Linked DNA regions of Homo sapiens. The protein of the gene in region 2 purifies or fractionates together with the protein of the main gene of each other region. This does not show direct contact. Each region holds a gene or a part of one and is shown on either strand. Other genes may lie near its edges.

Evidence for each region.
Region 1: the proteins of OXSR1 (region 2) and AIFM1 purify together in Homo sapiens (affinity purification with mass spectrometry; 2 studies listed by BioGRID and IntAct, with this or other methods). This does not show direct contact.

What each region holds. Positions count from the first base shown.
Region 1 is NC_000023.11:130,128,809-130,134,851, reverse strand, and holds the end of AIFM1 (apoptosis-inducing factor 1, mitochondrial isoform AIF precursor), read left to right. Parts: intron 1-1,396; coding exon 1,397-1,539; intron 1,540-3,052; coding exon 3,053-3,177; intron 3,178-4,685; coding exon 4,686-4,882; intron 4,883-5,223; coding exon 5,224-5,295; 3' UTR 5,296-5,490; downstream 5,491-6,043. UniProt on the Homo sapiens protein: Functions both as NADH oxidoreductase and as regulator of apoptosis.
Region 2 is NC_000003.12:38,252,537-38,255,984, forward strand, and holds the end of OXSR1 (serine/threonine-protein kinase OSR1), read left to right. Parts: intron 1-280; coding exon 281-355; 3' UTR 356-2,948; downstream 2,949-3,448. UniProt on the Homo sapiens protein: Effector serine/threonine-protein kinase component of the WNK-SPAK/OSR1 kinase cascade, which is involved in various processes, such as ion transport, response to hypertonic stress and blood pressure.

The DNA.
Region 1 (6,043 bases), on a different chromosome or scaffold from region 2:
TTAATGACTATATATTCCATTAAGCGAATTTCACAGTTTACGGTTGCTCACTCGTTGGATTTTTAGGTTGCTTTGGGGGAGTCTAAATAGCCACAAAGATGAACAAAGGGTTAGAGAGCTCAAATGCCACATCCTTCATGAAGCTGGTCCAGTTCACCCCCGGCTGGAGGTTCTCGCCCTCTGCTTGAAATACTTGACTCCTTTAATCTGTACCTCTCATATGGCACACTACTGTTTACATTGCTCTGTAGTTGTGAGCAAGGCTGTATCTTTCTGTACTAGGTTGTATGCTCCTCATAGTCAAGGTCCATGTCAGTTTTGTCTCAGCAACCCGGACAACATAATACTTTTGTATATAATAAGTACTCCATAAATATTTGTCGAATGAATGAATACTGAGTGACAAAAAGAAATCTAAGAAAACATTTCTAGGTGAGAGGCAGTCACATCCAAAAACTGGTTTCTACATATAGAAAAGAATATTCTGCAAATCATGGTTATTAAATATCCTGTCTGTTAAGGAAAGAACAGGAAGTAGACATAAGTAAACAAAACTATAGAAGATTTAGGTTAGCTTTATGGAAGCAGAATAGATTTTTTTTTCTTTTTTTTTTTGAGGCGGTGTCTCGCTCTGTTTCCCAGTCTGGAGTTCAGTGGCACGATCTCAGCTCACTGCAACCTCCGCCTCCTGGGTTCAAGCCATTCTCCTGTCTCAGCCTCCCAAGTAGCTGGGATTACAGGCGCTTGCCACCACACACGCCTAATTTTTTGTATTTTTAGTAGAGATGGGGTTTCACCATATTGGCCAGGCTTGTCTCGAACTCCTTGTGATCCACCCACCTTGGTCTCCCAAAGTGCTGGGATTACGGGCATTTGCCACTGCACCTGGCCTGGAATAGATGTTTTAAAATGAGATCTCAGGCCAGGCGTGGTGACTCATGCCTGTAATCCCAGCACTTTGGAAGGCTGAGGCAGGCACATTGCTTGAGCCCAGGAGTTCAAAACCAGCCTGCGCAACATGGCAACACCCCATCTCTACCAAAAAAAAAAAAAAAATTTAGCCAGGCATGGTGGTGCATTCCTGTAGTCCCAGCTACTTGGGAGGCTGAGGCGGGAGGATCATCTGAGCCTGGAGGTCCAGGCTGTGGTGAGCCATGATCGCACCACTGCACTCCAGCCCAGGCAATAGAGTGAGACCCTGTCTAAAAGAAAAAAAAAAAATTTAAATGGGTTATCAGCTGTTTTTGTTAGTTTAAGTACAACTCTGGCCTGTAGATGGAAAACATGAATTAGTTACCATTACAAGTGTTCTTTGAGCCCCCAAAGTTTATATTTTGTCTTTAACTTGCTTTTTTTTTTTTTATCATGTGTTCATGTTATGTATTTGTTTCCACAGGCAGGAGATGCTGCATGCTTCTACGATATAAAGTTGGGAAGGAGGCGGGTAGAGCACCATGATCACGCTGTTGTGAGTGGAAGATTGGCTGGAGAAAATATGACTGGAGCTGCTAAGCCGTACTGGCATCAGTCAATGTTCTGGTAATAGTGGTGTGCCTTGGAGACCCAACTGATTACAACTCAGTATCTCTAGGACCATAACACAGAGTTATGGTTTGGTTTTATTATGAGCCAGTTAGCTTCATACAGAAGGGAAAAAAGTCCATCTTATGTCCACACATTCTACCCTCAGGTAGCCATCTGGCAGAAGTGTCCTGTTTAGTTTTTCACCAAACTGATCCTTTTGTAAAACATTAAAAGAGAAAAAAATTATTTTAAGTGTTCTGTCTGGCGTATGTTAGACTAGGTGAATGAATGGAGATGGCACCAGCACTTCCGGCAAAATAGGTCAGAGGCCGAGGTGGGCGGATCACGAGGCCAGGAGTTTGAGACCAGCCTGACCAACATGGTGAAACCCCGTCTCTACTAAAAATACAAAAATTAGCTGGACGTGGTGGTGCATGCCTGTAATCCCAGCTACTCGGTAGGCTGAGGCAGGAGAATTGCTTGGACCCAGGAGGTGGAGGTTGCAGTGAGCCGAGATCACACCACTGCACTCCGGCCTGGGTGACAGAGCGAGACTCCGTCTCAAAAAAAAAAAAAAAAAAAAAAGGAGTGTCAGAAAGCATTCCAGTCCTAAAAGATGAAGGCTGGTCTGGTATGGTTGCTCATGCCTCTAATCCCAGCACTTTGGGAGGCCAAGGCCGGGGGATTGCTTGAGCCCAGAAGTTCGAGACCAACCTGGACAACATAGCAAGAGCTCGTCTGAATTTTTTAAATAAAAAGTTTTTAAAAGTTAAAAAAAAGAAAAGTGGAGGCTAAGGGGAAATACTGTAGGTTAATGAAGCCATAAAACATCTCAAATTCTGAATTCCATAAATGTGGAACACTCTTTAAAGCTTCAAAAAGGGAATTTCAAGACAAAAGTAGTGAATAGCAAAAGTGGGAACCTCATCACTTTCCAAATGTGGCATGGGATAAAAGCACGAATAAATTCAAGAACGTTTCAATCACCGCATGGATATGTGGTCGTGTATAATGGCTTTTTAAGGAAAAGTCAAAGCTATTAGGGTTAATCTTACTTTCTCATGGTCATCCCTAGATGCTCTAGCAACAGCAGATCAGTTGGCATCTCTCGTGATCTGCATACTAAGTTCTTTGGTTGGCATAAGAGTGCGGTGTTGGTCGGGTGCGGTGGCTCACATCTGTAATCCCTGCACTTTGGGAGGCCAAGGCGGGCAGATTACTTGAGGTCAGGAGTTCAAGACCAGCCTGGCCAACATGGTAAAACCCCGTCTCTACTAAAAATACAAAAATTAGCCAGGGTGGTAGTGGGTGCCTGTAATCCCAGCTACTCAGGAGGCTGAGGCTGGAGAATCACTTGAACCCAGGAGGGAGAGGTTGCAATGAACTGAGTTCGCACCCATTGCACTCCAGCCTGGGCAACGAGTGAAACTCCGTCTCAAAAAAAAAAAAATGCAGTGTCATGGAGAATATGTGCTACCGTGTCATTCCTTACAGTCCCTTGACAGAACACCCTCTTCTCTCTTCTTAGGAGTGATTTGGGCCCCGATGTTGGCTATGAAGCTATTGGTCTTGTGGACAGTAGTTTGCCCACAGTTGGTGTTTTTGCAAAAGCAACTGCACAAGACAACCCCAAATCTGCCACAGAGCAGTCAGGTAAGAAAGTCCTAGCACTCCTCTTGGAGAGTGTTGAGAAGCAGTGGTCCAGATTCTCCTGAACAAGGGGTTTCTGTATTGGCCAGAGGGGCTTGTCAGTGAAAGCCTCTCTTCATGTTGTGCTTTAAAAGAAACCAAACCCCAAGTCCTCACTCTTTAGTGGTCTGAGATTTGGCAAAATCAGGTATCCTGGTCAAAGCATAGATTCAAATATTGTGGGTATCTGTCCTAGACAGTGGACAGTGGCTAGCTCAATGACACTGCTGTTTTGTGTGTCTCTGGGAAGACCTTTCTAAGGAAGAAAACAAGAAAACCTGAACTTTTTAGATTGCGTTTTTATTTTTCTTTCTTTCAGTTGTCATTTTTATTATTTTGCTTCAGGCGAATCTCAAGAACACGGCCTGATAGGCTTAGCTTAAGACTGGCTATCCTCCATGGGTCCTGCGCAGGGAGGAACTGGGCTGAGTAGTTATTTAGCTGCCTCCCATTCCATTTGGCAGATCTTAGTGCCAGGTTTTCTTTAGATGGGAGGCACCTCTCTTGGAATGGACTTCTCTCCCACACATGTCTCTTTCATTAACTCCGAGACCTTATTCCTTGACCTTAGCTCAAGTTATTTAACTTCTGCATCCTTTTGCCAGAGGTGTCTCAAGGGCAAGGTGCTGTTTAAGAAGGAGAAAGCAAGACATTATATGGATATGTAGGTCCTTTTCCTGTGTAATTCTAATGTATTCCATATTCCTTAATTCTGATCTCTCCTAGTAACCTAGTAAGTGGATTCATGTCACTGCTTTGTCGACTGGACAGTATTATTTGGAGGCTGGTGGTTCTCAGCAAGGTGCCCCCTTCCTATGCCACCCTTCCCTTCCCCTCTTTCTCTAGGAAGAAATGCCTCCACTATGGTTTTTCCAAATGGAAGTGCCTTCTGCTTTGTCTAAAGTACCTGTCTAATAGCACTGTCCAATAGAACTTTCTGCTGCGATGGAAATGTTCCATCTCTGCTCTGTCCAGTACGTTAGCCACCAGCCACATGTGGCTTTTGAGCTCATGAAACATGGTGAGTACAGATAAGGAACTGAATTTTACATCTTACTCAGTTTGAAATGATGTTCATTTACATGGCTGTGGCTAGTGGCTACTGTATTTGGACCATGCAGCTCTAGAATTATTTCTTAGAGGACAAGAACCAGCCTTCTGCAGTTTGAAGAAATCCAGATACCAGGAAATATTCATAGCATGAATTTAAAATGAGATAATAAGGGAGGGAAGTTTAGGGTCAGACTGACCCTGTGCCCAGGAGCTGGCAAGGAAGACCTTTCCTTGGCTTTGTCACTGGAGAGGGGCTGGTGAAGGCCAGGGTTTACTGAGGGGGCATAGAGAAATAAATCCTCTAGAAGTAGCTTGAAGCAGGCCTCGAAAGACTGTTGGCTTCTAGAATTTCCCAAGCTCATAATAACTGAAGTTTTGATTTTGCTTCCATGTTTATTTGTTTTGGGGGCTGGCCACAGGAACTGGTATCCGATCAGAGAGTGAGACAGAGTCCGAGGCCTCAGAAATTACTATTCCTCCCAGCACCCCGGCAGTTCCACAGGCTCCCGTCCAGGGGGAGGACTACGGCAAAGGTGTCATCTTCTACCTCAGGGACAAAGTGGTCGTGGGGATTGTGCTATGGAACATCTTTAACCGAATGCCAATAGCAAGGAAGGTAGGTGCCTGTCATAACTCTTAGAGGAAGATGGGAAGTACGGCTTAGAAACATTCCTGTAACTTCATCGGGTGCCCTGAGATGCATTGTCCCCCGGCCAGGTCAAATTGTGCCTGAGCAGAACAAAGGTATAGCCTTGGCTCAGGAACATTCTTTTTCACTTGGGACTTGGCTGGGTGACCTGGGAGTTGGCAGGCTGCTTGTTTGGGGTTAGTAGAGAACTGTTCCCACAACTCCCTCCCAGTGTGATATGGGGACTGCCCCAGGTAGCCCCATTGTGTGGGCATGGCCTGAACGCAATGGAGTAAGTTAGGGACCTATTGTTACTCTCTCTCCCTCAGATCATTAAGGACGGTGAGCAGCATGAAGATCTCAATGAAGTAGCCAAACTATTCAACATTCATGAAGACTGAAGCCCCACAGTGGAATTGGCAAACCCACTGCAGCCCCTGAGAGGAGGTCGAATGGGTAAAGGAGCATTTTTTTATTCAGCAGACTTTCTCTGTGTATGAGTGTGAATGATCAAGTCCTTTGTGAATATTTTCAACTATGTAGGTAAATTCTTAATGTTCACATAGTGAAATAAATTCTGATTCTTCTAAATTAAATTCTGTTCTCTTGTCAAGGGGGCAGGTGGGTGAAGGTGGAAAGCCACGCATATTAGAAAGCAAGCAAATTGCAGCACCGACCAAGCACAGGATTTTTCTCAGCCATGTATTCATGCCCTACTCCAGACGCAAAACTCCTTTCATTTCCGAACTTCCCTCACCCCTCCAGACCTCTTTGCACACACCTGCTGTGGCCTCGGCCCACAACACTTGACTCCCCTCCTCTCCTCTCAGGAAGTTCACTATCTCTGAAGACTTTCCCAGCCTTCCAAGCCTCATCCTTGTGTATGTGTCTCCCTGCTAGCCCATGACTTCCTGGAAGCAGAAGCCCTGATGTTAAGGCCTTGCTCATGGTTTTATCTCCAGAGCTTAGCACAGGGTCTGCTTCATAGTAAGTGCTTCATAGATCATTGTCGAATGAGTGAACAAATAAATGTATGGAATAGACTTTGTTTACCTGGAACAACTCCTGTCCCAGAACTGGATTGGGTCCTGCAGGGGACAGAAAGGGCACTTACTACAAATCTGAGTTCAGAGACCTGGTGCTTCACAG
Region 2 (3,448 bases):
ATGTTTCCCTTTGAGTGGCCACTCTTCCTCTGTCCATGCCAGGAAACCTCTGACCCCAGAGACCCTTGGCTATTCATAAGAGAAACTATTAGCCAGTCTGACTCTAGCTGTTTACCCAGCCCCCCTCTTTTCTGGAATAAACACCTTCGTCAGTCTCCTATTTGTATCCTAGGGACCTGTTGCCCACTGCCTACCTTCCCACTATCCCATGTCTGTTTTATTTGCTACCTGCAAGTTTGTTTATAAATAATCACAGTTTCTCATTTTGTTTGGTTCTTAGGCATCTGGTGTCGAAGGCTCAGATATTCCTGATGATGGTAAACTGATAGGATTTGCCCAGCTCAGCATCAGCTAAACCACAACCCTGGAAGAGGCGGCCTAAGGAGATTCCACACATGCGTATCTCTGTTGCTTCTATTGGCCTAAACCCACTACTGCCAAAGAACCCAGCAACAAACCTCCCGGCTAGGAGCTTTAGAAGTCTTTATGTTCTTCCTGCCATCATTCCTCCTTTTCCCACAGGGAAAGAAAAGTTGGATCACTAGTGGCCAGCATCCCCAGAGTTCCGTTAGTAAACTTACTTCATATGTCCCCTGTCTTCCTCCATCTGAGAAGTGGCCCATGTGCTTCAAGGCCCAGGAGGGAGATCTGTCAGCTCATTCTTGCCTTACTCCAATGATGGCCCAGGTGGAAAAGTAGCAGCTGTATCGGGCTTCCTCATCCTGCCTGTTCCCCCACACCTGCCAGGATATGGACATCTTGGGATATCTCTTTACCACTGAAGTAGAATTGATTGTTCAGCTGGAGCCCAGAGAATTTAATTTAATGTTTTTTCTTTGTACCTGATGTGAATTCTAGCAACCTTTGTTAGGAAAAAGCACAGCCTCAGATGGAGGCAGCCTAAACTGTGTTCTTGTTTTGTTCATGGTGTTTCTAAGCGTTTTGCTGAAGCTGCTCTCAGGCACCCCCTTCTTCATTGCTCTCTCCAGAAAGGGTTGCTAGCCTTAACTTCAGCTGGTGCAAAACATCTGACTGTAGCCGAACTTCAGCCATCAGATCCTTCAAAGTGGAACTTTGGATTGTTTTTACAGACAACATCGAGTAATGGCTTGTAAATGTGAATTTTGCCAGAGGTGGTTTTTGAACAGGAAAATCATAATTCATATCATTGGAGAAGTATTTATTTTCAAATATCAAATTGAAGAAAAACTCAATCCTCCCATGAAAATCAGTTCGCCTGGCCTCCAAGTCGTGAGGAAATGGGTATGCAAGGCTGAGATTTCTACAGCAATAAAGGAGACACACACTGGGCCAGAGAGGCCTGCCTTCTGCCTGCTCTCCTGCACTGACCCTTTGGAGGGGGTCTCTGTGTGCTGAAGCTAACTCAAGATGGAAAGTGAAACCACATGTGCCGTGACCTTTAGGTTTTATGAGTAGACAGTGTTCATTTGATTTTCTACAGAAATAATATAAATTATTCTTTAGGTTTAAAAAAGAGCACTCATAATGCAATATGTGAATAATCAGTGAGGTTGATTTTTCTTTTTTCCTACCGTTTCATAGTCTTTGTCTAACTGCTAGTAACCCTACCGAGTTTTATATATGAGTGGGATACTCAATCTGGCCTTAAAAAGATACACAAAGATGGGCTGTGGGTCCCTGGAAAGGGGGAGAGTTGCCCTTTACAGAATCACTCGAGCCCTTTCCAGCACTGTTGGTCTGATGAACAAGGTTGTTTTACCTTATTTTCTCTTGGAACATATCTGAAAACCTTCCCCACAAATAACTTGTCACACCTTTTGTTTCATTCTGAGTCTTTAGTTTTAGTCATGGGCTTTCTTCACCTGCTCTAGGTGCAAAGGCATGTTGGGAAAGAGATGGATGTTGGGGAGGAAGAGAGGAGATGGATTTCAGTTGGGAGTTAGGAGGAGAGTAGGTGAGATGATCAGACACCGGAGTTCAACGTCCCAGCAGTCTTGGTAAAAGGAGGGAGCCTGCTGAGCCAGGAGGGAGAAAAGAAGATTGACCAGCTTGCTAGAAAAATACTTAGCTTTTCTTTTTCTTTTTTTGTGGAGGGGGGACGGAGAGGAACAAGGATGGGGAGGTAGGAATGAGGTATAGAAAAGAGATAGCATCTTCTTTGGCACAAGACTAGTGGCTTACCGCTTACCTTAGAGTTTTGTTTTTTTTTTTTCAAACCCATCAAAATCTACTTATTTATGAATCCAAGGGGTGGCAGCATCACTCTGTTCTAGCATTCTTTGTGGAGATGGTCTGGTGCCTAGCTGGGAGTGAGCAGCAGCCCATCCCCTGTTCACTTTCTCTAGCCCATCATTACCTGTGAACTGCAGTGGGGCAGTCATGGCAAATAGAATTGGGCTGGGGTTTCTCCTTCTTTTCAGTTCATTGTTTGCCCTGCTAGGAATTAGAAGACAGACACCATGTCCCAGGACAGTGTTACTTCTTCTGCATGATGTGTGGTAGACTCCCTTTGCTGGCTTGTGCAGTGATACTGAGAAAATACATGAACAGAAACTGCCCAGGTGGAACAGCACGTAACCTAGTGAGTGACTGTACTCCTTTCTAGGAATGCTGATTCAGAGTGCACCTCTTTGACTAGGTCCCAGGATCCCCTTGTCCCTGGAGTAGGGACTAACTATAGCACAAAGTAATATGTGCCAATGCTATTTGTGAAATGTTTGGTCTTTCTAAACGACTAAAGGATTTGTTGGGTTTTTGCTTAAGTTTTGAACCAAATCCTAGAGCCAGCTGATAATATTTAATAATCTGGAGGAGAGAATAATGATGTACCAATAAGTGGAGATTCCTCCTTATGATGTATGCTAGGTTATGGAAGATGTAAAATATTCAACTTTTTCCTCCTTTTTTTGGACTTTGTATTTTACTGCATGTTTTCTTCATTTTTAATCAATAAAGAGTAAATTGTCCTTAGTGGTGTATGGACGCTTTATTTTAGTGGCCGTTGGCGGAGAGCTGTGGGTTGTGGGTCAAGGAATCACCACCAACTTTAATTGTTCATGCGAATAGAAGCCAAAGTACATATAAACTGTAAAGTGTGTCTGTTGATCTACAAATTATCTAGAACCATTAAAGCCATTATATAGTTGGGGAAACTGCAACCCTAAAAGGGAGGGATGAGATCAGCCCAAGGAATTGGATAGGATGGGATATGGAACTCCTTTTATTATCTTTTGATCTTTTTTAAATCTTTGGTTTTGCTTATGCTGTTGGGCAAGGAAGGATGCCAGATTCAAGCCCTTGGGAGTCTCTTTCGAAAGTTCAGAACAGGGCTGAACTTATCTCTTCTTGGCTTTGATATTGCAATGGTGAAGTTACATGTAAGATTCTAGGCTCCTTTGTATTCCTGTTATCCTCCCACTGCAGGAGGAATCTTCCCTCATCATCTGCCCTTCCCAACAGCAGTGGC